Homo sapiens: one gene and its partners. The protein of the gene in region 7 purifies or fractionates together with the protein of the main gene of each other region. This does not show direct contact. Each region holds a gene or a part of one and is shown on either strand. Other genes may lie near its edges. The genes, in order: RALYL, AARS2, TMEM94, MRPS28, YARS2, DICER1 and RBM3.

Region 1 (4,604 bases), on a different chromosome or scaffold from region 7:
GTTCCTAGGAACAGGAGGTGAAATGACATGATGTATGCACTAATTTAAACTTTTGGATCCAAGGGCAAGACAGTCTTTTCCTTGGCAATCTAGTCCTTACTTGTCCATGGAATCTCATACCCAGACTGAAGTAATAATTGGATCATTTAGTTCAGTAGAGCGGAGCATGCTCAACTTAATCACAGATCAAACCAACAGTTCTTTAACTATTATATCACATCTGAAATATCTGCATTCTTTATTAATAAAAAGGGTGCTTATACAGGGCAGAAATATAACTTTTTCAAGTATTTTATCATTATGATCTGAAGTACTTTAAACTATAAATTATAAATAAATTATAAAAACTAGCATAAGATGCATCTTTTCTTACATGACATTGTTGGAAATAAGCTTTAAATACAGAATTGCAATATCACCTGACTTTATATATGATCAACAGTGAAACATGCTAATCATAAAAATAGCTTTTACAAATATACATTTGTATATAGTGTTTCCCTTACCATTCATAAATGCCTTTCACATTTTAAGACTGAAAAAAAAAACATAATTAGCAAAGGGGAAAACACATTTACAATTTAAACCATAAAAACCTGACAATTGTACAGCTTAAAACATAGAAGAAATGGAATTTCTAAAACTGAGCAATACTGTCCATTTTATTTATTTGGGTTTTTATATAAATTGAACCAAAGATGCTGCTGTCCAGTAAGAAACCTCCTTTCACATTTCTGGGGGTTGTCACAGTTTCTCTTTTCTGCTTTGTGGCATCATGCGTTATTTCAGATCACTTTATCTGTAGAAACTGAGAAAATAAAAAAAAATTTTAAAATACAGAGATTTGTGTTTTATTGTTGATAGCATGCGTATACTGATATGTAAGTTAGATTTTAAGGTTAGATCAGGGGAAGAATAAAGGAAGAATTAGATATTTAGGACAAATAATTTTGATGGTAGGTTCTTAGGTCCTTTGTTGTAGGCAAATCTATAATTATTTTCATTTATGGAATGTTACGATTTTTTTTAATCCAGCTAATTTATTGCCTGAGGTCAGCAATTACTTTTCAACCTGAGCTCTTGTCCAAGTCAAAGGAGGAACCACTTAAAGTTCTAGACTAGGGAAAGAGATTTCAATTACTCGTGAATCTTTGTTGTGCCCCTAACAAGAATGACCATAGGATACCCCTACTACGAGGCTTTGAACAGTGCTGTCCTAAGCCTTATGCATCTGGGATAGGAGAAAAAGCCAATACAGGTCTTTGATCTGCATTTCACAATCTTGGTTGCAAAAGAAGAAAATCAGAAACATTGAAAGACTTCATGGTGCAACCATGAGTCTGAAGCATTATGTAAGAGCCCAAATTCAATTGGTTGAACAACTGATTGAAATTGAATATGAAGACAAAATAATGCAAGACTCAATCAGTGGGGAAAATTATGTATTTATCTTAGAATCCTATCAAGTTCCAGGTCTTTATATTTAGATAAAAAATATTAGACCTACTGTTATCCCATCAACTTCAAAGGTCTTAGGGGTTAGATAGAAAATCTGTGTATGTCTTAAGAGTCAAAGACATGCAAATCAAGGTATCAGATGGGATGGGACATGTTGACCTTTTATAAGTAGCCAGAGAATTAGGTAACTTGACTTTATTTATTAAAGCTTTGAAGTCCATGATACAAAGATTATGAAAAAGACTGAGTGTGGCAAATGGGTGGTGAGAATTTCTTTGGAGGTTTGCAGCCCCCCAGATTTCATGCCTGGCTAAGACTACTGGTTGAAAGAGACTCAGTGAATGTGATGATTGAATTTTCACACTCATGTGTGAGATGTGCCTCCCTCAAATCTTGTTATGATATTGGCACATTACCTGTCTAACATGAAAAAAAATTTAATAAACTGATCTAAAACAAAACATACCCACTTAATAGTCTTTTCTATAGTCAGACACATTTAAAAACTTATATCCCTAGGAAAGAAGCTTTCATGAATAAGACATTTTGACACTGTATTTTGATATATTCTCTTTCTCTCTATTTCTCTCCTTCACTGCCTTTTTCCTTTTCTCTTCCCTCTCTTTCTCCTTACCCAATTCATACTGTACACTGATCACATATATATGAATTTTGAAAAATGAAAGCTTTATTCAAATGTGTTTGTCATGCAGTTCCAGGTTGTGTTTATGTGCATGAGAAGAGTCAGTTTTGTACTTAAGGCACAAAGGTTCGAACTTATTATACAACATAAGTAGACTACTTTTTGTGTGGTGTAAAGGAAGTTTTGTATATGACCTGCATGCACATATCAACAATGATCAATTATCATTATGAGAATGAATAACTTAAAAAATAAAATAAAAGTAACCCATAGATGAACACTGATATATGAAAATAGGTATTACAATGTTTGAATTTTGATAGATACCACTTGTGTGCAAAAAAGGAAATAAGGCTATTTATATGATTGCAATTGCACTCTTTCCTCTAAGGCCTCCATTGATCACTTTCTTATTATAAATGGAAAATGCTAAAAATACTGTAGCAGCTGTGTATGTAAAGCTTACTAGTCATGGTGTTTCTCCAGGTTAAGTCATGGCAGTTGACATGAATTTAGTACATTCTTACACCATCCTGCATGTGTCAAAAGAGGTAATGACTGTTTAGCAACTATGTATTTTGTTAAGATGAAAAAAACAACCTGTAGATTTTTTGTGCATAATTCATTACCCCCAGTATAATTTTTTCTTACACCTTCCTTTGCTTCTTAGTTGTAAATAATTACATAAAAATAATTATTGGGGAAAGAAAGGTAGATTTGAAAATAATTTATTGAAGTCTTCCTTCTTACCATAAAGCTTCAAAGCATTTGAATAAAACAAAAGACTCATTAACTTTGCATTGTGAAGTAGGTATTATTAACCACATGGTTACAAGTCATGAATATATTTCTCCTTATCTAAAAACAATGTCAAAACATATTCACAAAGCTTTCCATAAAACTTCTAGTATGAGAAAAGGCTTGCTGTTGGCTGTAAAGCCTGGGAGAAAGAGGACAAACTATGACATTCATATTGCTTTTTTCTTAAGAAACATAGTCACTTATGGAGCTGATTGTTTTAGTATAATGTAAAACTAATTGTGCTCTCTTTCTCTGAATAGTGGGTAATTTATCTACTGGCTGTTTGGGAGCTTGGAAGCTTTTAAAACAAATTCTCCTGATGATGAATGCTTTTTAAACTCTCAATCTCTCCCATTTCTGAAAAAGAACAAAGAGATCTACTCGGATGGGACTGGATTGTATTGAACCAAGCAATTACTTCTACTTGACAAAGATGAAATGGATAGTATTAATCTACATGGAAGGCACATTTAATTTTAAACTTTATGCATTACTATATTTGAAATAAAAGAGTACAGCAATATATAGAATAAATCCACCTTATTTACACTCTGCCCAGAAAATCATACTTTTAAATAAGTCTTATGACTTCTTCAGTAGCAGGAATGCTTGTTATTTTTGTTCTAATTCAGATTTATAACTAATAAGAACTTAGAGAAATTTACATCATCTGTATTTTTAGGGAGCATATATAAATGCAAATAAGGTGAAAGAAACTGTAGGTAAGACAGGTCACATAACACTTTATAGAAAAGCAAAGTCTTATGAACAGCAATTATACTTGTTGCCACTATGGATCATGTTTCTTGAGTAATCATTCAGCCACTCACACTTTTTATAGACAATGTGAATATATTTGGCTTTCACAAATCCCTCATTCTAAATGAGATACAATTCAATTCAAATTTTTAAGTAACACAGACTAATTCTCAGCACCTACTGTTCATCATAAGTTAAAACTTGTCTTCTGTTAATAAACTCTTAGGAACCAAATTACGTTACATTTTTAGGCTCAAATAATCATATCAAAAAACTGTAATGGAATGAAAACCAAAATGAGTAGTAACTTATTGGAATAACTACCAATGGAGGAAACTGCTCCATTAGGTAGTTCTTGGAGGCTGAATAATCTCTATTCCTGAGTTGATGGCCATTTAGAGTATAGGACAGTGAATCAGAAAACACAGGGGAGAATCATCTGAGATTTTAACTTTAAAAACAAGGCTTAGATGAGTGACATCTAGTATGTAATTTCCCAACAGGGTGACTACAGCCAATAATAATTTACCTGCACATTTTAATATAACTAAAAGAGAATAATTAAATTGTTTGTAACACAAAGGATAAATGCTTGAATGTAAATTGGGCTAACCCTTGACATTGTCTATAGTGATTCTTGGTAAATTGTGACTACACTGGCAAACTGTCTTCTGAACATGCTCACTGCTTTTTTCCCTGTCTCCATTCCACCTTCTCTGTCCTTATTTCCCTGCCCCTCCTAACTGTTCAGTTTTATAACTCAAACCCATTGTTCTGCTCAGTAATTCTCATGTCTTTATCCTATTTTCCATCTGACTCACAATAGTCATGAAATAAAAAAGACCAAGAAACAACAGGGCTTTTTAGCATAGTGGATCACAAATGCCCAAATCAGTGGGTTTTGTTATTTCATACAGAAATGGAAAGATAAAAAGGCTAGGAA
Region 2 (4,604 bases), on a different chromosome or scaffold from region 7:
GGAGAAAGGAACATTGGGAAGAGGTCAGGGGTGGATATGAGGCATGGGGCTGGCCCAGAGCTCCCTCCTCTGCCCACCTTGGTGAGTCTCAGCGAGCCCCTTGTGCATGGGCTAGGTATCCTGCTTACCAGGGAACATATCTGAAGGCCCCAGGGTCCTCAGAGTCCGATCAATGATCCGCCTACCCCGCTCCAGGGAGGCCAGGAAGGCTGCCTCGTCCTCTGACACCAGGTTGGCGATCTGAACCAGGCAGAGAAGAAGTGGAGCTGGGTCTCCTTGGAAGGAGGGTCTCTCTCCACAACTCTCCCATCAACCCCTTTCTCTCCCACTGGAATCCAGTACCTGGGCTGAGTTCCTTTGCAGTTCTGGATAAGCATCTCCCTGGGGGAGGTGGAGAGGGCTGAGGAGGTGTGAAAGGCAACCAACCCACCCCCACCTCCCCACCCTGGGCCTCCCTGAGGACACCTGCCCTGGAGGCTCAGACACATTGAGGGGCTGGGAGAGGGACTCAAATGGGGAACTGGTTTCCCTGTAGGGTGGCAGAAGGGGGTCCTGAGGTCAAGGGCTGAGCAGTTTGGAAAAGGAGCCTCCTCAAGTTCTCCTGCTTCTTGTAAGCAAGGACAGCTTTCTTAGCTTGCTGATAGGATGCTGGGCTCGATATTTAGGGTGGGGACCTCTGGGCACCCAGGCTGGGGGCACTGTCTAGGCTCAGTGGTAGGCTCCCCAAAGTGCCCAGGGAGGCCCAGAGTGAAAAAGAAGCTCTGTCCTTACCAGTGTCTCCACCACTACAGGTACCAGGCTGCCTAGGAAGCCAGGTGGTGCCTTTAAGATCTCCATGGAGAAACGCACAGCTCGACGCAGGATCCGACGAAGAACCAGCCTAAAGGGGTTCAGAGCCCAGACATGAATCCCCAGCGGCTCATGGTCAGCAATATGGGGAGTGGGAAGGACGAGGTCCAGTGTGTGCTCCCACCTCAAAGCTCTCCCTCTCCCCATTCCTCCTACTGGCTCAACCAGACCCACCTCTCCTGTTCCCTCCCTCCTCCACCTGAGACCCCCAGCAGCCCCTGTCCTCTCTGTAGCCCTTCCAGACTCACGGGGGACCTGACATCCCAGGGAAGATGCCATCAGAGATGCAGACACTGAGTGTGCGGATGTGGTCAGCCACCACGCGGTACGCTGTGTCTGTGCGCCCCTCGTCTGCCACCCCTACTCGGCCCAAGTAAGGGGGTGCCCTGCAGCCCTGGGAAGCAGAAGAGTCAGCCAGTGGCCCTGCCTGACCTGGCCCAGGTGGGTGCTCTTTATCGCCTCTAGAGCATCTGCCCTCAGCCCTAAAGCCAACCACATCCAGAATGGCCTTGCCAGTCCAGTCCTGGGCTGAGAAGCCTCACAGATGAGCACAAGCCAGGCCCTGCCCTCACGGGGCTCATATTTGGTGCTACAAGTGAACATATCTGTGACCATTTACTGAATTTCTACTATCAGAACTGGGTGAGTACTTGAACAACATGGCCTCGAATCCCCAAAACAGCCCATTCCAGGAGGTATTAGCATGCTTGCTTTAAAGAAGAAGAAGCTGAGGCTCAGAGGAACTCAGTGACACAAGGCTACCCAGCTCTCAAGGAGCAGATCTGAGATCTCAGCCGGGCCTGTTGGACTCCAGGTGCTCTCCACTACCTGTTCTTGCCTCTCCCATCTTTTGTGGGGGTGGGCAGGGAGGGAGAGTGTAAGCTACATACACGGAAATGCTCCAAAGCAGGGAGCTTGATTCACTTACCACCAAACCTCTCTCTTCCCCAAGCTTCTTCGTCTAACAGTCATGCCATTCACTGTGTTGCTCAAGTCAATAGCCTGGGAGCCATCTTTGAATTCTTTTTCCCCTACCCGTCATGATCCATCAGTGGTTCCTTTTGCTCCTACCTCCATGACATCTCTCAAATCAATCTACTTGTCTCTACTTCCACTGCTATTATCCGAAGCATGCCCTGTGGTCCTTGCCTGGACCGATAATAGCCTCCCAACTGATTCCTAAGTTTCTGCTCTCATCTCCCTCCAGCTCATCCTCCACACAGCAACAGGAGTAGCCTTTTAAAAGTGTACATCAGGCTGGGCGCGGTGGCTCACACCTGTAATCTCAACACTTTGGGAGGCTGAGGCGGGTGGATCACCTGAGGTCAGGAGTTTGAGACCAGCCTGGCCAATCCTGGTGAAACCCCATCTGTACTAAAAATACAAAAATTAGTCAGGTGTGTTGGCGGGTGCCTGTAATCCCAGCTACTCTGGAGGCTGAGGCACGAGAATTGCTTGAGCCCCGGAGGCAGAGGTTGCAGTGAGCCGAGATCATGCCACTGCACTCCAGCCTGGACAACAGAGCAAGCAAGACTCTGTCTCAAAAAAAAAAAAGAAGGGTTCTCAGTGGGGAGTGTGGCATGATCTGATGTACACTTTTATTTATTTATTTTTTTTGAGATGAACTCTCACTCTGTTGCCCAGGTTAGAGTGCAGTAGCACGATCTCAGCTTACTGCAACCTCCACCTCCTGGGTTCAAGAGATTCTCCTGCCTCAGCCTCCCAAGTGGCTGGGACTACAGGTGTGTGCCACCATGCCTGGCTGATTTTTCTATTTTTTTAGTAGAGACAGGATTTTGCCATGTTGGCCAGGCTGGTCTCCAACTCCTGACCTCAAGCGATCCGCCCCCCTCTGCCTCCCCAAGTGCTGGGATTACAGGAGTGAGCCACCGTGCCCAGCCCTGAGAACTCTTCTCACCACTCTGAGAATCAAGGCCCCACTTTGGACTTTGAGGCCCACAAGACTGGATTCTGCCTTCTTCTCTGTGAGACTGTTCACAAAAATGGCCCTTTCCTAGGCATATGCCACTTTAAAATGGGACTTTACAGCTGTTTCCCATCAAGGGACAGAATCCATTTCTCCATCCCCTGAATCTCTGCTGGCTTTGTGACTTGCTTTGGCCCATAGAATACAGTGGAAACAACACTGTTCTGAGCCTATGTGTCTGCTCTCTGTCTTGGAACCTTGCTGAGCTGTGATGTGGACAAGCCCAGACTAGCCAGCTAGGTGATGACAGACACATGGTCCAGTCACCCCTACTGCCCCCAAACTGACAGCCAGCCAAGCCCCAGAGGAGCTGCGGCCTCTCAGCTCACCACAGATGGATGAATGAGCTCACACAAGACCAAAGAATGAGCCAGCTAAGCCCAGCCTAAACGCTAGCTCACAGACTCAGGGGGCAGATACATGGTTGTTGGTTAAGCCACAGAGCATTAGGGTGGTTATACAGCAAAAGCCAACTGACACATGTTCCTACTATATCCCATGGGATTCTCCTTTAGCTGGCTGGCCACCTTTTAGTTTTTGGCACATGTCAAGCCCTTTCTTGCGGGGCAAGGAGGGAGGGTATAAGCTACACACATGTGGAAATGCTCCAAAGCAGGGAGCTTGATTCACCTAGCTCCAAACCTCTCTCTTCCCCAAGCTTCTTCATCTCAGTAAACAGTCATGCCATTCACTGTGTTGCTCAAGCCAATAGCCTGGGAGCCATCTTTGATTTCTCTTTCCCCTCCCCATCTAATCCATCAGTACCAAGGCCCTTGGTACCTGCTGTCCCCTCTGCCTGGAAAGAACTTCCTGTAGCTGACTCCTCCTTTGGGGCTCAGCTCAAAGGTCATCTTCTTGGTGAGCCTTCCCCAAGCACCTTATCTAAGATTCCTCTGTACCCCTCCTTCTTCCTAGTTACTTTCACCCATGTTTACTGCCTGTTCACAATCTGTAAGCTATTACCTTGTTCTTTAACACATTTATTGATTGTCTATCTCTCATGCTAGCATATAATCTCCATGATCTCTTTCCTGCTTACTGCTGTGTCTTCTGTACCAAACACAAAGGATTTAACATAAAGTAAGCACTCAACACGTATTTTCTAAATAAATGAAAGAGGCAAGGAGTTAGGAGGAACATCAGGTAATAAGTAATGAATCCTAGTGTCTTGCTTGACGTCTTGGAATTCTTGGTTGGTTATTGTCCTCAGATGCTGAGAACACTCTGAGTTCTCAACAAAGATGGAATGCAATGGGGCTGAGGGCTGTGAAGAGCAGGTTAGAGGGCTTCTGGAAGGGAAGAGGCACTCACCTGCTGTATGGCGTTGAGCAGCGGGGAAAAGAGGTCAGTGTCATAGGTGGAGTGTTTGCCTTGCAGCACAGCCACCAGCCTTTCCAGGCCCATTCCTGTGTCCACATGCCGCTGGGGCAGGGGCTGCAGGCTTCCATCTGCCTCTCTGGCCAGGGAAGGTGTGCAAGGTGAGGCCCCACCCAGGATTACAGGTGTGAGACAGATGCCCAAGTGGAGTAGAGAAATGGGGGGGGGCCCAAGGGAGCTGACAGTGGGAGGAACCAGACAATCAGTATCTTCCCCTGCCACCCTGCAATAGCAGATGATGATGGCCTTGGGGTCCTGTCCTTCCTCATATAGGGCTATTTCCATTCTCACCCCTGCTTGGGCCCTTGCCTGGGCACCAGACATCCCATCTTGGGACAGAATTCTTTGCCCCTAGAAAGATATGTCAAGGCTAGAAGAAAATCTGAGATCA
Region 3 (4,604 bases), on a different chromosome or scaffold from region 7:
CCCTGGCTGCCTTGTCTTCACCTCACCTGCCCAGAAGCAGATCCTAATGGTGCCCAAACCCTCCTTCGCCCTCCGAAACCTCACCCTCCCTGGCCAGGCTCCAAGGCTAAACAGCCTGGCCCAGAGTCGGGCCCATGGGAGCCGGCCGTACCTCCTCCTCTACCTCGGGATGGCAGAAGGAGCGGGTGGATAGGCCATCGGTGAGGTCCTCATGGCTGCTGTGAGGGGGCTCCACCTTCCCGCTGAAGAACAGTACAGTCTCTGGGCTGGGATTTGGCCATGACAGGATCCCCTGTTTGTCCACACAGCACAGGACCTGCATGGAAAGCATTTGAGATAGGAAAGGGGCCTGGCATTAGCCTATCCTGCCCAGGGGCCACTCAAGCGGCAGGTGGGCAGCCCAGGCCCAGCCAGAGAGCAGGGCGGGCATGACAGTTGCCTCCTCCCCGCAAGGCCCACCCTCACCGTGACAGAGCCCAGGCTGTGCAGCAGGCTGGAACTGTGGCTCAGCGTTGGCGATGTCCCCCCGAGCACCCTCAGGAAGTGGCCCCAAATGCAGCGCAGCATTTCCTGGTGGGAGAGAGGAAGTCTGCAAGGCCATTTAGGGCTCAGCCTCATTTCCCTGGAGACGGCCTCTAGGGGAAAATCCAGGGGAGCACCACGAAGTTGGGGTGGAGAGGCACTTCTCTGGGACAGGGTGTGGACACGTTATGGGAACAGGTCCAGGTTATGTCCACATGTAACGGGTGGACATGGGGCTCTAAGAGCCTGGTTGGAGGCTTTAAGGCCATAAATAGGGGAGTCCCAGGGTTATGGCTCTAGGGACCTGCGAGAGAAGCCATCCCGGGTCAGTGTTGTACCTGAGAGGAGACAGCCTCCGTATAGCTGCTGAGAGTATCCTCTGAGAACTTAGCCAGCTGCACGGAGAGAGGGTGAGGTCCTCAGTGAGGAAAACGCCGCCTTCACACAGGCCTCTCCAAGCTGGCAGAGGGGGGGCCCACACCAGCGGGGCTCCCAACCCCTTTGGTAAAGGGCCCAGGCCGTTCTGACTCCCCACCTGGTGGAAGCCAGGGCAGACGCTCACTCACACCCAGGGCCTGGCCTGGAGGCCCTTCTGGAATGGAGAGGGCCCGAGGCCTGGAGAGCTGCCCAGGCTGACCAACATGCCGAGCCCAAGGTGGGGCTGGACTTCTGCCCCCGTCCTCTGGCACAGCCAGCTCCCTCTTTTTGTTCCTGTGACTTCCCCCAGACACCTTGGAAAAACCTACCAGGGAGCTGGGTGAGGCCTTGCTCATCTGGGCCAGGACACGGGCCTCTCCACAGGCAGTTGCCAGAACCCAGAGGACTGGAAAGAGCAGGGGGAGGATGGGCAGGACGCCATTCACCTGGGAAGGAGCGGACCACACAGATGGCTCCTGAGCTCCGGGCCTGGGGAGGAGGGAAGGGAAGGGCTGCCCTGGCCCCACGGCCATTCCCTGGGCAGGAAGGGCCAGCTCTCTCAGGGGCAGGAAGGGAAAGAGGTGTTCTTTTTTTTTTTTTTTGAGACGGAGTCTTGCTCCGTCGCCAGGCTGGAGGGCAGTGGCGTGATCTCGGCTCACTGCAACCTCCACCTCCCAGGTTCAAGGGATTCTCCCACCTCAGCCACCTGAATGGCTGGGACCACAGGCACGTGCCACCACGCCCAGCTAATTTTTATATTCTTAGTAGAGACGGGGTTTCACCATATTGGCCAGGATGGTCTCGATCTCTTGACCTCATGATCTGCCTGCCGTGGCCTCCCAAAGTGCTTGGATTACAGGCCTGAGTCCCCACGCCCAGCTGGAAAGAGGTGTTCTTAAGCTGAAGCGTGAGGGGACCTCTGGGCTGCAGAGAGGGAGGGACAGCCAGGGTACTAGGAGAAGAGCCAGCCCTGCGGGTCGGAGGGAAGCATGACAGAGAGGACAGGGTGGTCCTTGCCTGGAGCTGGAGGAGGGTGTACTGCCAGGAAGTGACCCCCGGGGCACTGAAGATGAAGCGCAGGGCATTGGTGATGAGGAAGCCGGCCTGTTGGGAACAGCAGAGGCACAGCCTTGACCCCGCCCCTCTAGAGGGACCCAGGCACTGCCGTTCCCCTTCCTTTGCTACTCCACAGGCTGGCTCACTCTGGGACCCTCTGCATTCACTCCCGCTCATGTGAGTGGCCCTGAGACCCCCCCGTGTCCAGCCCTCTCCTCTGCCCCATGCAGCCCCGCACAGCCCCGCCACACGCACCAGGACCACGGGCACAGCATAGTGTAGCATCACCGACTGCACTGTGAACCGCTCATTGTCCAGGGCAGTGACTGGTCGGGACAGGGCCATGTCCAGGCACCATCTGCAGAAAGAAGTGACTGTCAGTCTCACTTGGCAGAGAGGCTAGAAACCTACACCTTGGGAGGATTCTGGGCCTCTCTGCCAGATACCGCTTCTTCAAGCACCGTGAGTCCTGCAGTTCCACGCTCTGCCCTGGCCCTAGCCCGTGTTCACCTCCAGAGCTGTCCCCTCAGAGTAGAGACTGGGAGAGGGCACCACTCAGTCTAAGAATTCTCACAAGATGTTAAGGACAGGAGCCTAAGGAGATGCCTGCCCTCAAGAGAACCTCGAGATGAACGGGGCCCCTTCCTTGTCAGTCCCATTCCCCTCTTCACAGAAGACACCAGGGACAGGAGGAGGCGGGGCAGCACCCCTACCTGATGTTGTCAATCACAGGGGTCTCAAGGACACGGAAAAGCCGGTGCTGCTGGGGGCTCTGTGGCCCTCTCTCCACTTCTCCCCGGGGTGAGGGTGGAGGGGAGAAGGGGGGGAAGAGGTCTCCCGGCTCCAGGACGATGTGCTCGTCATCCTGCCGGCAGCAAGTGGGAGAGTGGGAACGAGAGGGTCCTATCAGAGGCCACTCTTCCTGGACAATTCATCTAAGTACAGACATTCGCTGGGGTTAGGAGCCATCAGTTAGCCCAGAGTCCACTGGGACAGGGCCTGTGGGACTAGACTTTTAGCGAGAATAAAGAACAGCACAGGGGGCCAGGCGTGGTGGCTCACACCTGTAATTCCAGCACTTTGGGAGGCCAAGGCAGGTGGATCACCTGAGGTCAGGAGTTCGAAACCAGCCTGGCCAACATGCCGAAACCCCATCTCTACCAAAAAATAAAAAATAAGCCAGTTGAGGTGTGGTGGCATGTGCCTGTAATCCCAGCTACTGGGGAGGCTGAGGTGGGAGAATCGCTTGAACCCAGGAGGCAGAGGCTTCAGTGAGTTGAGATCGTGCCACTGCACTCCAGCCTGGGCGACAGGGTGAGACCCTGTTTCAAAAAAAAGAACAGCAGGGTGGAGGAAGATGTTCCAGAGCCTCTGCCAAAAAGCCAGTAAGCTGGCCGGGAAGCTTCCGGATGAAGTCTGGGGACCCTCCCATCGTTGCCTGTGGATGTTCCCACCGCATTTCCAAGGGAGAAGGAAAGCCTCAAGCTACCTTGATCCCCCTCAGAGAAGCAAACGATTCCTGGCCAGGCCTCAAAGCTATGATGTCTCCTTCAACCAGCAGGCTGACTGGCAGGTTGACCAGGTGTCCGTCTCTGTAGGCCCAGTGCAAGGACCAGGATGGCGCAAAAGGCATGTGGAGGTCTGGATACATGGCACTGGGCCACTGGATCTCCCTGCCATCCCTGAGGGCATCTGAGGGGAATGGAAAGAGGGAAACAACCCTCTCAGCCACGGCCCTGCCCCCCAGTCAGATACAGCAGCACTTCCGGAAGCACTGTCTGCCCACTTCCTCTCCCAGGAGGTCTGCGTCAAACCCCTCCACTCGTTCCAACACTTCCCTGCTTTCAAGGATGCCTCCCTTATAAAGCCCTACCCGGCCACTCCAGCCCCAGAGCCTCTACCTCCTCTCAACACCTGGAGCTCTCGTTCTTTGTACCCCCATCCCATTCAGATACACTTCACAAACATTGCAGAGGGCCTGTGAGGGGTGCAAGGTGGAGACAACAACATAGCTCCTCAAGGAGCCACAACCCAGTGGGGCAGATGAGACATGTGGACAGATAACGCCAAACAAGGCAAACACGGCTAAGCATTAACAAAGATCCCTGTGCTGCAGGAGTCCAGAAGAGGGAGCAAACCGATTTGCTGGGGCGATCAGAGGTGGCTTCCTGAAAGAGGAAGCACTGGGGATGGGCCTGGAAGAATGGTTTTGTCAGCTGGAGATGAGTGAGGGAGAAGCTCACCAGCAGAGAACAGTGGAGAGAGGCACAGAGGCAGAGGCTGATACACAGTGGGCCTAGGACTGGTGAGTAGTTTCAGCATCAGAATGAGGAGGAAGAGAAGAGGCTGGAGAGGAAGGTGAGCCTGTGTTGGAGGCTCTGGGAGGCCACTCGTGCCTCTGGGATGGCTTCCATAAGCAAAAGGGAGCCACTGATGCTCCTGGGCAGGAGACTAAGCTCCGGAAAGCAGGGCCCATCTTTTGCCATCACCATTGCACTCCCAGTGCCTGGCACATGGTGGCAATTAACCATCTCAGAACGAAAGGACAAACTCACTTAGCATCTAAACGTCCACTGCCCAGGTCTGTTGGAGAAAGGTCTCATGAGTGG
Region 4 (4,604 bases), on a different chromosome or scaffold from region 7:
GCTATTAATTATTGCCTCAATTTCAGAGCCTGTTATTGGTCTATTCAGGGATTCAACTTCTTCCTGGTTTAGTCTTGGGAGGGTGTATGTGTCGAGGAATTTATCCATTTCTTCTAGATTTTCTAGTTTATTTGCGTAGAGGTGTTTATAGTATTCTCTGATGTTAGTTTGTATTTCTGTGGGATCGGTGGTGATATCCCCTTTATCATTTTTTATTGCGTCTATGTGATTCTTCTCTCTTTTCTTCTTTATTAGCCTTGCTAGCGGTCTATCAATTTTGTTGATCCTTTCAAAAAACCAGCTCCTGGATTCATTGATTATTTGAAGGTTTTTTTGTGTCTCTGTCTCCTTCAGTTCTGCTCTGATCTTAGTTATTTCTGCGTTCATTTTGTTATGTACCCAGTAGTCATTCAGGAGCAGGTTGTTCAGTTTCCATGTAGTTGAGCGGTTTTGAGTGAGTTTCTTAATCCTGAGTTCTAGTTTGATTGCACTGTGGTCTGAGACAGTTTGTTATCATTTCTTTTTTACATTTGCTGAGGAGTGCTTTACTTCCAACTACGTGGTCAATTTTGGAATAAGTGTGATGTGGTGCTGAGAAGAATGAATATTCTGTTGATTTTGGTTGGGGAGTTCTGTAGATGTCTGTTAGATCCACTTGGTGTGGAGCTGAGTTCAATTCCTGGATATCCTTGTTAACTTTCTGTCTTATTGATCTGTCTAATGTTGACAGTGGGGTGTTAAAGTCTCCCATTATTATTATGTGGGAGTCTAAGTCTCTTTGTAGGTCTCTAAGGACTTGCTTTATGAATCTGGGTGCTCCTGTATTGGGTGCATATATATTTAGGATAGTTAGCTCTTCTTGTTGAATTGATCCCTTTACCATTAAGTAGTGGCCTTCTTTGTCTCTTTTGATCTTTGTTGGTTTAAAGTCTGTTTTATCAGAGACTAGGATTGCAACCGCTGCCTTTTTTTGTTTTCCATTTGCTTGGTAGATCTTCCTCCATCCCTTTATTTTGAGCCTATGTGTGTCTCTGCACGTGAGATGGGTCTCCTAAATACAGCACACTGATGGGTCTTGACTCTTTATCCAATTTGCCAGTCTGTGTCTTTTAATTGGAGCATGTAGCCCATTTACATTTAAGGTTAGTATTGTTATGTGTGAATTTGATCCTGTCATTATGATGTTAGCTGGTTGTTTTGCTCATTAGTTTATGCAGTTTCTTCCTAGCATCGATGGTCCACAGTTTGGCATGTTTTTGCAGTGTCTGGTACCGGTTGTTCCTTTCCATGTTTAGTGCTTCCTTCAGGAGCTCTTTTAGGGCAGGCCTGGTGGTGACAAAATCTCTCAGCATTTGCTTGTCTGTAAAGGATTTTATTTCTCCTTCACTTATGAAGCTTAGTTTGGCTGGATATGAAATTCTGTGTTGAAAATTCTTTTCTTTAAGAATGTTGAATATTGGCCCCCACTCTCTTCTGGCTTGTAGAGTTTCTGCCGAGAGATCCGCTGTTAGTCTGATGGCCTTCCCTTTGTGGGTAACCTGACCTTTCTCTCTGGCTGCCCTTAACATTTTTTCCTTCATTTCAACTTTGGTGAATCTGATAATTGTGTGTCTTGGAGTTGCTCTTCTCGAGGAGTATCTTTGTGGCGTTCTCTGTATTTCCTGAATTTGAATGTTGGCCTGCCTTGCTAGATTGGGGATGTTCTCCTGGATAATATCCTGAAGAGTGCTTTCCAACTTGGTTCCATTCTCCCCGTCACTTTTGGGTACACCAATCAGACGTAGATTTGGTCTTTTCACATAGTCCCATATTTCTTGGAGGCTTTGTTCATTTCTTTTTACTTTTCTTCCTCTAAACTTCTCTTCTCACTTCCTTTCATTAATTTGATCTTCAATCACTGATACCCTTTCTTCCGGTTGATCGAATCAGCTACTGAAGCTTGTGCATTCGTCACGTAGTTCTTGTGCCGTGGTTTTCAGCTCCATCAGGTCATTTAAGGACTTCTCTGCATTGGTTATTCTAGTTAACCATTTGTCTAATCTTTTTTCAAGGTTTTTAGCTTCTTTGCGATGGGTTCTGACTTCCTTCTTTAGCTTAGAGAAGTTTGATCGTCTGAAGCCTTCTTCTCTCAAGTCATCAAAGTCATTCTCTGTCCAGCTTTGTTCCATTGCTGGCAAGGAGCTGCATTCCTTTGGAGGGGGAGAGGCACTCTGATTTTTAGAATTTTCAGCTTTTCTGCTCTATTTTTTCCCCATCTTTGTTGTTTTATCTACCTTTGGTCTTTGATGATGGTGACGTACAGATGGGGTTTTGGTGTGGATGTCCTTTCTGTTTGTTAGTTTTCTTTCTAACAGTCAGGACCCTCAGCTGCAGGTCTGTTGGAGTTTGCTGGAGATCCACTCCAGACCCTGTTTGCCTGGGTATCAGCAGCAGAGGCTGCGGAACAGCGAATACTGATGAACAGCAAATGTTGCTGCCTGATTGTTCCTCTGGAAGCTTCGTCTCAGAGGGGTACCCGGCTGTGTGAGGTGTCAGTCTGCCCCTACTTGGGGGTGCCTCCCAGTTAGGCTACTCAGGGGTCAGGGACCCACTTGAGGAGGCAGTCTGTCTGTTCTCAGATCTCAAACTCAGTGCTGGGAGAACCACTACTCTCTTCAAAGCTGTCAGACAGGGACATTTACGTCTACAGAGGTTTTTCCTGCCTTTTGTTCGGCTATGCCCTGCCCCCAGAGGTGGAGTCTACAGAGGCAGGCAGGCCTCCTTGAGCTTTGGTGGGCTCCACCCAGTTGGAGCTTCCTGACTGCTTTGTTTACCTACTCAAGCCTTGGCAATGGTGGGCGCCCGTCCCCCAGCCTCGTTGCTGCCTTGCAGTTTGATCTCAGACTGCTGTGCTAGCAATGAGCGAGGCTCCGTGGGCATGGGACCCTCCAAGCCAGGCATGGGATATAGTCTCCTGGTGTGCCGTTGGCTAAGACCATTGGAAAAGCGCACTATTAAGGTGGGAGTGACCCGATTTTCCAGGTGCCGTCTGTCACAGCTTCCCTTGGCTAGGAAAGGGAATTCCCTGACCCCTTGCGTTTTCTGGGTGAGGCACTGCTTCGGCTCACACTCGGTGGGCTGCACCCACTGCCCTGCACCCGCTGTCCGACAAGCACCAGTGAAATGAACCCGGTACCTCAGTTGGAAATGCAGAAATCACCTGTCTTCTGGGTCACTCACGCTGGGAGCTGTAGACTGGAGCTGTTCCTATTCGGCCATCTTGGAACCCCTAATTTTGTATTTTTAGTAGAGACAGGGTTTCTCTATGTTGGTCAGGCTTAGAACTCCCGACTTCAGGTGATCCACCTGCCTCGGCCTCCCAAAGTGCTGGGATAACAGGCGTGAGCCACTGTGCTCCACCTTGATGCCTACTTTCTTTAGCTCCTCTTCAGGAAGGAAAGGATGGAAGAGGAAGTTGAAGAGCATAACTGGCATTTTAAAGCAAAATTCCACATATATTTTAAAATTATTGCTACAACAATTGACTTTAAGAAAATTTCTTTAAGACTTTATTATACCTTCATGTTGAGTTATATGTATATAAATATCTCTTTTCATATTTAGGGTTCTCCAAAAAATGTGGAATCCTTTGCATCTATGCTGAGACATTCTCCTCTTACACAGATGGGACCTGCAAAGGATAAACTGGTCATTGGACGGATCTTTCATATTGTGGAGAATGATCTGTACATAGATTTTGGTGGAAAGTTTCATTGTGTATGTAGAAGACCAGAAGTGGATGGAGAGTAAGTAAAATCATTTCCAAGTACCTTAAGAGTATTCATAAAAGTTGGGATAGCGCAAAAGTATTGTTGAATGAAAGGTGATTTTTTGAAAAGACAGAAAACATATTTATTTGTCTTGATAATGCTGCAGTAAAGTCTGAAGTGCTTTAAAAATACTTGTTGGTCATGTCAGGCCAGACTCATATCTTCTCAAAGCAGTGAGAGCAGTTGTTGGGAAGACTTGAATGTTCATCCTGATAATAAGCCATTCCACACCATAAACTTAAAACCAACTTTGTAATAATGCATGTTGCTTAGGCTATTTTGCCTGGAACCATTTTTTTGTCCCTTCTCTCTGTTCCATAGTCTCTTTCCACTTCTCCTTTCTTTTCTTATTATTTTGCATCTATTTTTAGGATTATTTTTCCTAATAAATAGAGTTCATTCTGTTGTGGTTTATGTAGGTAAAGATATTTATGAATATAAATAGGCACTGGAGAAAGCACTAAGGTGGGAGATCTAGGAGTGGAATATCAAGAGTCAAGGAGAGGTTGAACTAAGATTCTGAGATGGGAAAACAATAGAACAATAGTAAACGAGATAGAAGTGATTTTTTTTCCCCATCAATTTCTAATGTGCATTTTTTACTTTTCACTATTTTTGATATCAGGATGCATGTTACAGTTGACAGTATATTAAATTAACTGGCAGTGTTTTTTTTTAATCATATATAAAACAATAGTGAATCTAGTAATCAATGGTATTTTAGATAGGATGAATTACAGTGTTTAAGAAGTTTTTGGCATATAAAAATTGGTCATATTGTGGAAATGAAAGGCG
Region 5 (4,531 bases), on a different chromosome or scaffold from region 7:
ATCATGGCCATGATATGGCCGATAACCATTTGACTTCTGTGTGAACTCCTGCAAAAGAGGCACCTGGGGGTCTTCTGGCTACCCAACACTTTTCCTTCCACCTCACTGTTCATTTAAAAATGGATAAGCATCAATTATATGCTGAATTATTTTTTGTGAAAAACCTTATTTACTCCTTAATACCTCATAACTGATTAATTAAAATATTCTACTCAATTCCTGAATAGAAAATGCAATTCTCAAGGGGATTATTATATAGTTTACAATAATAGTCTTATGACGTTAGTAGGTTAGTGCAAAAGTACTTGCGGTTTTGGCCATTATATGCTCATTTCATTTTCAGAAATTCAGTTAATACTATAGATAGGTTAGGTAACCTTTCCCATCCCCGAATATAAAAAGGATACAGACTATGAGAGGGGCTGTGTTAATCTGTTACATAGGGCCTCTGTTTCTGCATCCCTCTAAAACTGTGACCATATCCCTAAGCCGTACACTGATGCCAGTGTATTTACTGAACATGTCCCTCAAATGCACTTTTCCAGTGTTGGAGGAAAGACTGACTGGGTTAGATATAATAAGAGACAGTATAGGAGTACTGTACTATTATAGAAAATATAAAGTATTTTCAACAATAAGTACTCTCAGGCTATACTTTATTCTTGGACTAAACTAACTTTTCTAAGGAAGAGATGCCACTAAAGCACTATCAGGAAAACATCCTCTCTGGAAACACATGCTGTGAACTGTAACATTTTATTTATTTTTTGAGACAGAGTCTTGCTCTGTCACCCAGGCTGGAGTGCAGTGGTGGGATCTCCGCTCACTGCAAGCTCTGCCTCCCGGGTTGATGCCATTCTCCTGCCTCAGCCTCCCAAGTAGCTGGGACTACAGGCGCCTGCCACCATGCCCGGCTAATTTGTATTTTTAGTAGAGACAGGGTTTCACCGTGTTAGCCAGGATGGTCTCGATCTCCTGACCTCGTGATCTGCCCGCCTCGGCCTCCCAATGTGCTGTGATTACAGGCATGAGCCACTTCTCCTGGCCTTGTGAACTGTAACATTTAATGGTGAATTAACTGTAAATCTAAAAGTTAAATAATCTTACCCTCGGGGACCATCTGGAATGGCATTTGCTTTGCGGCAAGTATCTAGGACACTTGTTCCAGGATCGAGAAAAAATTCAGAAAATGGAGCTTCTTTAAACAACTCTTTTAACTCCTGATCAGACATGACCTCCAGTGCATCTATGCTACTGTGATAAAGGGCTTGTGTACACCTGAAAAACACATTTTAAGAGCTACATCATATAAATGTTTATTCAAATACATGTTCTAATACCCATTAACCAATTATAGAGTGTCCAAGTTCTAGACTAAAAGTTTTTTTTTGAGATGGAGTCTCGCTCTGTTGCCCCGGCTGGATTGCAATGGCATGATCTCGGCTCACAGCAACCTCTGCCTCCCGGGTTCAGGCGATTCTCCTGCCTCAGCCTCCTGAGTAGCTGGGATTACAGACGTGTGCCACCACGCCCAGCTAAGTTTTGTATTTTTAGTAGAGATGGGGGTTTCACCATGTTGGTCAGGCTGGTCTCGAACTCCTGACCTCGTGATCAGCCCACCTTGGCCTCCCAAAGTGCTGGGATTACAGGCGTGAGCCACCGCGCCCGGCATAGACTAAAAGTTTTTTAAACATCTATCTGGTATAATTCATAAACTTAATTCAAGATAATCCTTCTTTCCAATAAACAGGGGCTATTTTAAATTGCTAAGTCAAATACTGACAGTCCTTGTGATAAATGACAAGATAATCCTAAAACATACTCCTACTTTTCTCATGTCTATCCACTGAATAACTAACTATCAAGTGTTAATCATACTAAACTACTACCTTTTAGCAGAATCCAATCCTTCTCGTCCATGAACAAGCTTTGTTACTTCTGCTGCCAGTCGTTTCTGAGGACCCCGCCTTTCTGGCTCTTTGACATGCAGCTGCATGATATGATCAATCTCTGGAAGGGGCAGGAAAGTGAACAGCTTCAGGTACCTTTGAGACAAAAAATAAAGAGTTACACTTATATAACATACCTAATTTTTATCTCCAGCTCTTCTACCCTTTAAGGTTATCCTGCTTACTTTTAAATATGAAACAAACATACAGAAATGTACTGAACATAGTAGGTCCCATGCACACATCACCCAGATTTAAGGTGTTACTATTTTGGCATCTTTGTTTTCAATTTCTTTTTTTTTTTTTTGAGATGGGGGTCTTGCTGTTGCCCAGGCTGGAGTGCAGTGGCATGATCATGGCTCACTGTAACCTCAACCTCCTGGGCTCAAGCAATTCTACCACCTCTGCCTCCCAAGCAGCCGGGACCACAGGCTTGTGCCACCACGCCTGGCTAATTTTTATATTTTTTTTGTAAAGACGGGGTCTCCTGTGTTGCCCAGGCTGGTCTCAAACTCCTGGGCTCAAGTGATCCTCTTGTCTCAGCCTCCCAAAGTGTTGGGATTATGGGCAGGAGCCACCAAGCCCAGCCTCGTATTTTCTTTTTAAAAGGAACAAAATAGGCATAGATGAAGGCCGCAGTCCAATCACATTCCCTTCCTTGCCCCGAGATAATCATAAATCTAAGTTTATGTGCTGCCATCTTTCCCAAGCATGTTTTTATACTTTCATGTGCATGTGGCCATAAAAAAAAAGTACTGTGTAATTTTAAAAACTGATATAAATCATCATGCTCTGCATAATGATGTTTCTGTCAATGATGGACTACATATATCCGCGGTCCCCAACCTTTTTGGCACCACGAGGCGGCGGGGAGGGGAGGTGGTTTCAGAATGAAACTGTTCCACTTCAGATCATCAGGCATTTGTTGGATCCTCAAAAGGAATGCGCAACCTAGATCTCTTGCATGCGCAGTTCACAATAGGGTTTGTGCTCCTATGAGAATCTAATGCAACCGTGGATCTGACAGGAGATGGAGCCCAGGTGTAATGCTCGCTCGCCTGCCACTCAGCTCCTGTTGCGCAGCCCTGTTCCTAACAGGCCACGGACTGGTACAGTCCAACAGTGGTTCATAACATTATAATACCATAGTTTACTGTACTTTTTCTATGTTTACGTATACAAATACTTACCCTCGCGTTATCACTGCCTTCAGTATTTAGTACAGTAATGTGCTGTATGTGCTTCTACCCTGGGAGCAACAGGGTACACTGTATAGCCTAAGTGTGTAGTAGGCTATGCTATCTATGTTTGTGCAGGGACACTCTACGATATTTGCAATGATGAAATCACCTAACAACACACTTCCCAGAATGTATCCCTATTGTTAAGTGATATATGACTATAATATCATCCTATATGTATTCTCTTTTTCTTTGGTGAAATATATATAACACACAGAAAAAAGTACATTATTCACAAAGATATAGCTTAATGAATCATAAAACATCTATGTAACCATCACCATGGTCAAGAAATACAGTATTGGGCCGGGCGCAGTGGCTCACGTCTGTAATCAAATAGTGAGTTTGGCAGAGTTGCTAGATTTAAAGGTAATATATATAAAGTAATTGTATTTCTATACACCAGAACCAGATAGAAAATGCAATTTTTGAAAAGATTATCTAAATTCTCTAGGCCGGGTGCGGTAGCTCAAGCCTGTAATCCCAGCACTTTGGGAGGCTGAGGAAGGTGGATCACTTGAGGTCAGGAGTTCGAGACCAGCCTGGCCAACATGGCGAAACCCTGCCTCTACAAAAATACAAAAATTAGCTGGGCATGGTGGCGCATGCCTGTAGTCCTAGCTACTCAGGAGAATCACTTGAACCCAGGAGGCGGAGGTTGCAATGAGCCAAGATCATGCCACTACACTCTAGCCTGGGCAACAAAGTGAGACACTGCCTCAAAAAAAAAAAAAAAAAAAAAAAAAGATTATCAATTCTCAATACATCAAAACCCCAGGACTATATCGTCAAACATTCTAGGACTAAATCTAAAGAGAAAAAAACACAATTACCAAAATTTTGTAATAAGGCATGATAATCTTCCACTCTGTTCTTCAAAAACATCTTGGCCAATCTTAGCCCTTTTTATTTCTATGTCAGTGTTACAATGAGCTTGTCAAGTTCCACAAAAAGCCGGTTTAGATATGGTTGGCACTGTACTAAATGTAGATCAAATCCAGAACTGGTATCTTGGCCGGGTGCGGGGGCTCATGCTGTAATCCCAGCACTTTGGGAGTCTGAGGCAGGTTTATCGCTTGAGTCCAGGAGTCTGAGACCAGCCTGGGGAACAAGGTGAAACTCCACCATTACTAAAAAAAAAATACAAAATTAGCTGGGCATGGTGGTGTGCACCTGAGCCTGGGAATTTCAGGCTACAGTGAGCCAAGACTGCGTCACTACACTCTAGCCTGGGCAATGGGAGTGAGATTCTGTTTCAAAAAATACAAAAAAGAACTGATATTATTTTTGTACTATGAATATGGTCTAACTCTCCATTTATGTAGGTCTTTATTTTGCTCA
Region 6 (3,500 bases), on a different chromosome or scaffold from region 7:
AAAGACTGATGAAACTAAAGCCTAATTTTCGTTATGGAGGAAAAATGATACGTGGCTTTCGACTACATTCTGCTGGAAGTTCCGAGACCTGGGTTCTCGCCTAGCAGTCCCTGCTTCTTAATTCCTTGCTTATTCTGGGACAAGTCACCATCGGTCCCTGCCTCAGTTTCCTCAGCTGGATATATTATTTTAATCACTGTGAGAAAATAGAGGTGTTGATTTAACATTGATCATTTTCACATTTTGACAACCAGTTTACCTGCCTTTGCTCCCTTTCACAACTCTTCTTTCTCAATCTCTTGGTTTGTGGTAAATTCATTTCTATAATAGCTCAAGTTAAGAAGAGGGTCTTCTTTTCCTGTCATCCTGTGTAACAAAAATAGCCCAGGAATAGTGAGGAATGGTATCACTTATGCACAGATTCCAGAGTGTGAATGAGACTTTAGCGATGGCAGCACAGTGTAGCCACATGGAGAGGTGTGTGCGGCCCTGGTTTCACTTAAGTGATGATGTGTGAGGGAGACTCGAGAGGAAGGCCCCAGCACCTGCCCAGACAGCACAGTGCCAGAGAAAAGCATTCAGTGATCATGATAGCACCTGTGAGGTTTTGTTTTTCCTTCTTAACAAGCGTTAGTCTTTTGACCACTTGAAGATTTTATGACCCCAGTTTATATAAGAAATGTACTTAATTTGTCATTAAAATTTAGTTTCCAGAGGCTTTTTAGTATGATATGTCAGATATCCTTTTTGAAGAATATATGTATGAAAATGATTGTAAATACAAATCTTCTTCGGATTTGGGGATCAGTTGCTATGTGGGGATAGTGTAAATGCTTCTGCACAAGCTTACGGTTCCACTTCGGATCCCCTCAGATTGTTACCAGCGCTTAGAATTCCTGGGAGATGCGATTTTGGACTACCTCATAACCAAGCACCTTTATGAAGACCCGCGGCAGCACTCCCCGGGGGTCCTGACAGACCTGCGGTCTGCCCTGGTCAACAACACCATCTTTGCATCGCTGGCTGTAAAGTACGACTACCACAAGTACTTCAAAGCTGTCTCTCCTGAGCTCTTCCATGTCATTGATGACTTTGTGCAGTTTCAGCTTGAGAAGAATGAAATGCAAGGAATGGATTCTGAGGTTAGTGCTGTTCAAAACGATGTTGAAAAAAGTGGTCTAACTAGGAGTCTCTGTAGTTTCAGAGTTCTGACGGCATAGTGGTCTAAAGGGACAGCAGGAGGTCAGGGGTGTGGGACCCAGTGTGCTGTGTTCTGTGGGAGCACGAGTGAACTGCAGTTTGCAGGTAGGCCTCTTGAACTTGTCTGCCCCCACTGTGGGCTGTGTGGTCATTCAGGTGAAGAGAAGGAACCAGGCCTTTCAGTTAGGTACCCTTCCCACGCCTTCATGAGGGCTTCCAGCATTGAGGCATGCCAAAGAAGTGGCCTCCACTGCCGGACCCCAAGGCAGGTTTAGCTTTAGTAAAAGCCCAGTGTAGCTTATCCTTCCTTTTTTAAATGGATCAGAAATATTTGCTAATATCTCAGGGAAGCATCATAAATATACATTCTGCTTCTACTTGAAGTGGGAAAATCTAATTTAAAAAACAAACTTCTAAATTTTTGACCATTGGAATTTGGGAGGCTTCTATTGTAAGTTCAGCCAAAGGCTGTCTGGTGACAGAGCTAATTCTAATGTGTTTGTGAGCTATTTCGAATTTTTGTAGGAAAGGATATTGCTTAGATCTTTCCAGTCTCTTAACATTCATCTGCATACCTGTGTCCCCCAGAGAGACTCTCATTTCCTCCTCTTCCCATTTCATTTCCTTTGATTTTCTTATTTTTGTAGATTTTCTTATAAGGAGTCAGGAAATACAACCTTAATACTAGTAGCTGTTTTAGTTGTCATTGCTTTAATTTGTACCTTCCCCTTTTTAATTGCACCAAACCTTTGTTGGGGAGTAGTGACTTTCTATGACAAAAATTAAGAGTAGGTTTGAAGTCTAGCCGCAGAGCCGAGTTCACGCCCTGCCAGCTGCCCAGATGTGCACTGGAGGAGTCAGTAGGCCCTGCTCTTACTTTAACGCGCCTCTGTGCTCTTGTCCAAGATGAACAGCCTGAGCTGGAGCGTGGCAGGCTGTGAGGCGAGAAGGCGGGACCAGCTCGTAGACTTCCAAGTGTTACCTAGTCTCATTCTTTAGAAATAGCTAAGCTTGAAATTTGAGGAATTAGTTAAAATTAGATTTAAGCTCTCTTTGGATGCCAGTGGGGCATATTGGTTTTGTTAGTTTTTGTTCATTCTTTTCCTTCCCTTTGTTTATATAAACATATGTATAGAAGTTACAAGAACTGATTGGAAATGTCATGGTCTGGCATTTCTAACTTACTATTTGATCTTAAGAAAGTCTCTTTACCTCTCTGGGCCTCCGTTTCCTCAGCTGTAAAAAGAGAGAATTAAACTTGGTAAGTTTTAAAATTCCTTTCTATCTCAAAACCATAAATATGAACAATAAGTCTGTTTTTTTAAGTAATCAGCAGTATAAATGTATTATATGTAACTTTGTATGGCTAAACAACCTATTAGAAATTAGTATTTTCCCACTTTCTCTTTATTTTTTTCACAAATGATTTGTGTTGATTTTAGAAAAGTTAGTACAAGTAAATAAGAAGAAAATTAGTTAAATTTGCCTGATTATGCTACCTCGGAAATAACCAATATTAACATTTTGGGAGGAATTGTGGATGTGTATAGATATAAACATATCTAAAATGTAAAATGGAATTCTGTTATGTATAGGATACTGTCACCTGTTCTTTTCACGTATAATATATTGTGGCTGACTTTCCGTGTATTGATGGGTATCGTGATGCTCAGGGGCCACACGCTAGTCAACACGTGGCTGATTGATTTAAACGCTTCTTTATGGCCGAGTAATTAAGTAGTTTTTGGTTAGGATGTTTAATAACCATGGAGGTGATAAATACGCTTATGTATCTAGTTACCTCCTTAAAATAAGTTCTTAGAGATGCAATTGCTGCATCAAAGAATTGTGAACTTTTCAAAGGCTTTTGATGCATGATTTTCTTTTATTAATTTGCATACATGCTATGTCAGATACTCGGTTATAGTGAACACATATCTAGTGGCTTAATGAAGAGGGAACTTGGAGGAAAAAATCTTTCAAATATAATTTCCCTATTTCCCTACAACAGCGATTTCTGCTCCCCAAAGCAGCATACACCCGTGCCAGCACCAGACCAATTAGTACTATTGAATGCTTGCCAAGCAGCTAGGGAGTAGAACTGTTTTAAAGTATAGTTCTTTGATTACGAGTGAATTTGAATTTTTTTCATACTTTTATTGACTATTTCTAATTCTTTGTTAAGGTTGTTTAAAGTTAGAAGTAATCTTTTTTCTTTGCTGGGTATATAGAATAATAAATGGGGTGGGGATATTTTTTCTTTTTTTCTTGAGAAGTTTGAAAAACTTTTTTAAAAATAT
Region 7 (3,680 bases):
TAATCCCAGCTACTCGGGAGGCTGAGGCAGGAGAATTGCTTGAACCCAGGAGGCGGAAGTTGCAGTGAGCTGAGATTGTGCCACTGCACTCCAGCCTAGGTGACAGCAAGACTCTGTCTCAAAAAAAAAAAAATGGCACATCAACGAGAGGGAGGCTTGGAGAATATTTGGTTGGTGGGTGGGCAGGGACTGCCAGAGGGTTAGGTGTACATTGAGGCCTGAGGCCTGCTGGAATTGGGTTTCCTTAACTGGTCTCTTATCTTAGTCCCATTGTTCTGAGAACATAAGCACCTAATCTCATGGCGTGAGCTAATCCCTATCATAAATAGTGGTACCAGTTCATTCCTTCCCCTGAAATGATGGGGGTTGGGCAGAGATGCACTGAACTCATCTTTGTGTATGAGGGCCATGAGAGAGGCCTGGTTTGAAAACAATGCTAAGAGCTCAGATTCCAGGATTTATGTAGGGGCTCTTCTACTTCCCAGGTATTTGACCTCAGGTGAGTCATTTAATTTCAGCCTTATGCCATTTTACATTTTCTGTGGAGGGTTAGGTTAATTGGCATATAAAGCCACTGAGAAGAGTTGGCAAAGCTCTCAGTCACGGGGATTTGATCTTTTTTGGTGTGTGTGTGTCTTGGGTGGTAAAGTGGTAATTTTGTAATTCTAGCTGGTCTTAGTTCCTCAGTTCTGCTCCCTTTAGTCATGGTTCTTTCTAGTGGCTGTATTGAGGCCCCATGGGTGTTATCCCTCCATTGGTTCTAGTTTGGAACAGAAAAATCTGTTGTATTCATGGCTTTCACCTGGCTAATACTGAGCTAAGTTACCACCAGGTTGCAAACTCCAGGACATTATTGTCCTGAGCTGCCTATTCCCTTGCTGGTGCGTTGTGGAACCCTGTATTATTAGTTCCAGTCCTGGAGGCCTGCCTCCTGAGTTTCCCAGCTAGTTGGGACAGGCCCCAATATCCCTTCTTCCTGTAACCCAAACAGTCATGAATTTGCTTTGGCAGGTGGATGGAGACTTGGGAACTTCCACCTCACCCACTAAGCCAGGCCCAGGCTATGGGGCATTGTGGCTAACCCCACCAGGTGGATACTTGGTCTGAGGACGCATCTTATTCTGGGCCTTTAGGGAGCTAAGGCAGTGAGAATTGGCAGGAGGACTGCTGTGAATGCCTTGTAGGTCGGGGGATTGGAGGGGGTCCTCTGCTCCCTGTCTCTCAGGATGGCAATGTACCTCTCACCCCCAGTGTCAGCTGAGGTAGGATCCATAATCAGTAATATTCCTGCAACAAAATGTTCCTAAGTGGAATCAATGAAGACCAAAATTTATTTGTATAACAACTCTAAACCTGCTCTGCTCTGCTGTGTTTACAATGTGCTTTGTGATCATCCAGCCCAGGGAGTCCCAGTCTCTGGCTGTCTATCTGCTCTAAGGAAGAGAGCCCACAGTTCTCTATAGTGCCATAGTCTGTGATGAATAAAGTTCCAGATTTGAGGTCAACCCCCGACCACCCTTAAAGTGCTTGTTGGTCTCCTACTTTGGTTTGTCTTCAGCATCCAACTGATGCACATTTGTCAAGAACCCACTGAGGCTAGAAACCCCCCAAACACTCAAGGTACCTTGAGAACATGTATCCCAAGACCTGCAAAGACCAAACACATGGCCTGTAACTACTTTTCACTTTCAAGCCCTGGAACTTGTCTGTACCAAAAATCTTTCTGAACCATTCACCAAATCTCTTGTCAAGGGCCAGAATAAATTAAGAGATTGGCTTTTGGTTTTCAATTAGGCTTTCAAGTCCTAAGCCCAACCCCTCCTATCCCACCTAGGCAGAAATCACTTCAGATCCTTGCTTCCTAGTTTAATTTCTTCTCTGCCTCAGTTATAACATCCATAAAATGGAAATAATAATACCCACCTCACACAGGGGTTAGGAGTGTTTTTTTGTTGGTTTTTTTCCAGACAGGGTCTCACTCTGTCTCCCAGGCTGGAGTGCAGTGGCACAATCTCGGCTCACTGTACCCTCCGCCTCCCAGGTTCAAGCAGTTCTCATGCCTCAGCCTCCCAAGTAGCTGGGATTACAGGTGCCTGCCACCACGCCCGGCTAATTTTTGTATTAATAGAGACAGGGTTTCACCGTGTTGGGCAGGCTGGTCCTGAACTCCTGACCTCAAGTGATCCACCCGCCTCGGCCTCCCAAAGTGCTGGGATTACAGGCGTGAGCCACCACACCTGGCCTAGGAGTTAAGAGTATTAAATGTTAAGAACAGACCAAGTCCATCAAACAGCTCCACACCCTTGTTCCATGTTCTGGATTGGGGAGTTGTGGGGGTGGAGGTGTAGAACTTTTAAAAAGCTTCTTAAAATAAGTTGCTGTGAATACTTCAGGTATATAAAAAAACATTGGTTGACAATAAGCCAGTGTTCTGCCATTCTTACCTGCTTATCAAGACAAAACCTGCTCAAGTCCCTGCCCAGCTGCATTCCAAGTGTTTTCAAGTTTGGTGGTAAGACCTGACCTGAGGCTTCTTATAACCTTTACTCAGTGGGAATATGCATACAGTTCACTACAGAAATATTTGTATTTACTTAGAGGAAGTGCCCTGGATCTGGGGGCGGGGGGGGGCGGGGGGAATGGGTCTTTTCTAAATTGTTAAAAGCAGTTCATGCCATTATTCTTAATAAACATTTCTAATATGCTGTGAAAGAGTATATTCGTTTTTTTAATGCATATATCCATTTACTCATTGTTCCCATGAAAGAGCCTTGTATGCAAACCTCCAAATGCCGAAGGAGCCAAGAAACAAGGCAGACAAAAATTGTTAGTAAAGGGTTCTTTACTGGGGGGACTTAGAAGCATGACGTGGGGACGGGCGCAGTGGCTCACACCTGTCATCCCAACACTTTGGGAAGCCGAGGTGGGTGGATCACCTGATGTCAGGAGTTTGAGACCAGCCTGGCCAACATGATGAAACCCCGTCTCTACTAAATACAAAAATTAATCGAGTGTAGTGGCGCACACCAAGTAATCCCAGCTTCTTGGGAGGCTGAGGCACAAGAATGGCTTGAACCCGGGAGGTGGAGATTGCAGTGAGCCCAGATCGTGCCACTGCACTCCAGCCTGAGCGACAGAGCACAACTGTCTCAAAAATAAGCATGGCCTTGGGTGGCAGCAAGATAACCATGCTGTTGCTCTTCAACCCACGGCTTACATACCATAGGGAAAGAGTGTGCTCAAGATGAAGGCAACTCCAGAACAGGCATAATACTCTATGCATCATCATCTAATTTGTGCGATAATGTAAAAGTTGACAAGCTCTTTTTTTTTTTTTTTTTTTTGAAACGGAGTCTCGCTCTGTGGCCCTGGCTGTGGCGCGATCTGGGCTTTCTGTGGCCCAGGCTGGAGTACTGTGGCGCGATCTGGGCTCACTGCAAGCTCCGCCTCCCGGGTTCATGCCATTCTCCTGCCTCAGCCTCCGGAGTAGCTGGGACTACAGGAGCCCGCCACTACGCCCGGCTATTTTTTTGTATTTTTTAGTAGAGAGGAGGTTTCACCGTGTTAGCCAGGATGGTCTCGATCTCCTGGCCTCGTGATCCACCCGCCTCGGCCTCGCAAAGTGCTGGGATTACAGGCGTGAGCCACCGCGCCCGGCCCCTGACAAGCTCTTAAACTAG

What was found.
Region 1: the proteins of RBM3 (region 7) and RALYL purify together in Homo sapiens (affinity purification with mass spectrometry, with the first as the bait; one large-scale study listed by BioGRID). This does not show direct contact.
Region 2: the proteins of RBM3 (region 7) and AARS2 purify together in Homo sapiens (affinity purification with mass spectrometry; 2 studies listed by BioGRID and IntAct, with this or other methods). This does not show direct contact.
Region 3: the proteins of RBM3 (region 7) and TMEM94 purify together in Homo sapiens (affinity purification with mass spectrometry, with the first as the bait; one large-scale study listed by BioGRID). This does not show direct contact.
Region 4: the proteins of RBM3 (region 7) and MRPS28 purify together in Homo sapiens (affinity purification with mass spectrometry, with the first as the bait; one large-scale study listed by BioGRID). This does not show direct contact.
Region 5: the proteins of RBM3 (region 7) and YARS2 purify together in Homo sapiens (affinity purification with mass spectrometry; 2 studies listed by BioGRID and IntAct, with this or other methods). This does not show direct contact.
Region 6: the proteins of RBM3 (region 7) and DICER1 purify together in Homo sapiens (co-immunoprecipitation; one study listed by IntAct). This does not show direct contact.

Annotation. Positions count from the first base shown.
Region 1 is NC_000008.11:84,917,098-84,921,701, reverse strand, and holds part of RALYL (RNA-binding Raly-like protein), read right to left. Parts: intron 1,885-4,604; exon of another isoform or gene 1,789-1,884; intron 809-1,788; coding exon 791-808; coding exon of another isoform or gene 786-790; 3' UTR 1-785.
Region 2 is NC_000006.12:44,306,152-44,310,755, forward strand, and holds part of AARS2 (alanine--tRNA ligase, mitochondrial), read right to left. Parts: intron 4,293-4,604; coding exon 4,148-4,292; intron 1,291-4,147; exon of another isoform or gene 1,244-1,290; coding exon 1,098-1,243; exon of another isoform or gene 1,083-1,097; intron 925-1,082; exon of another isoform or gene 881-924; coding exon 772-880; intron 382-771; coding exon 343-381; intron 241-342; coding exon 129-240; intron 1-128. UniProt on the Homo sapiens protein: Catalyzes the attachment of alanine to tRNA(Ala) in a two-step reaction: alanine is first activated by ATP to form Ala-AMP and then transferred to the acceptor end of tRNA(Ala). Also edits incorrectly charged tRNA(Ala) via its editing domain.
Region 3 is NC_000017.11:75,487,015-75,491,618, reverse strand, and holds part of TMEM94 (transmembrane protein 94), read right to left. Parts: intron 3,688-4,604; coding exon 3,485-3,687; intron 2,861-3,484; coding exon 2,709-2,860; intron 2,354-2,708; coding exon 2,251-2,353; intron 2,044-2,250; coding exon 1,957-2,043; intron 1,386-1,956; coding exon 1,269-1,385; intron 918-1,268; coding exon 861-917; intron 571-860; coding exon 466-570; intron 317-465; coding exon 164-316; coding exon of another isoform or gene 152-163; intron 1-151. UniProt on the Homo sapiens protein: Could function in the uptake of Mg(2+) from the cytosol into the endoplasmic reticulum and regulate intracellular Mg(2+) homeostasis.
Region 4 is NC_000008.11:80,002,180-80,006,783, reverse strand, and holds part of MRPS28 (small ribosomal subunit protein bS1m), read left to right. Parts: intron 1-3,603; coding exon 3,604-3,785; intron 3,786-4,604. Other genes in the region: TPD52-MRPS28 protein, read left to right, coding at 3,604-3,785.
Region 5 is NC_000012.12:32,748,830-32,753,360, forward strand, and holds part of YARS2 (tyrosine--tRNA ligase, mitochondrial precursor), read right to left. Parts: intron 2,046-4,531; coding exon 1,890-2,045; intron 1,279-1,889; coding exon 1,108-1,278; intron 1-1,107. UniProt on the Homo sapiens protein: Catalyzes the attachment of tyrosine to tRNA(Tyr) in a two-step reaction: tyrosine is first activated by ATP to form Tyr-AMP and then transferred to the acceptor end of tRNA(Tyr).
Region 6 is NC_000014.9:95,091,530-95,095,029, reverse strand, and holds part of DICER1 (endoribonuclease Dicer), read left to right. Parts: intron 1-873; coding exon 874-1,142; intron 1,143-2,335; exon of another isoform or gene 2,336-2,461; intron 2,462-3,500. UniProt on the Homo sapiens protein: Double-stranded RNA (dsRNA) endoribonuclease playing a central role in short dsRNA-mediated post-transcriptional gene silencing.
Region 7 is NC_000023.11:48,578,451-48,582,130, forward strand, and holds the end of RBM3 (RNA-binding protein 3), read left to right. Parts: 3' UTR 1-2,712; downstream 2,713-3,680. UniProt on the Homo sapiens protein: Cold-inducible mRNA binding protein that enhances global protein synthesis at both physiological and mild hypothermic temperatures. Reduces the relative abundance of microRNAs, when overexpressed.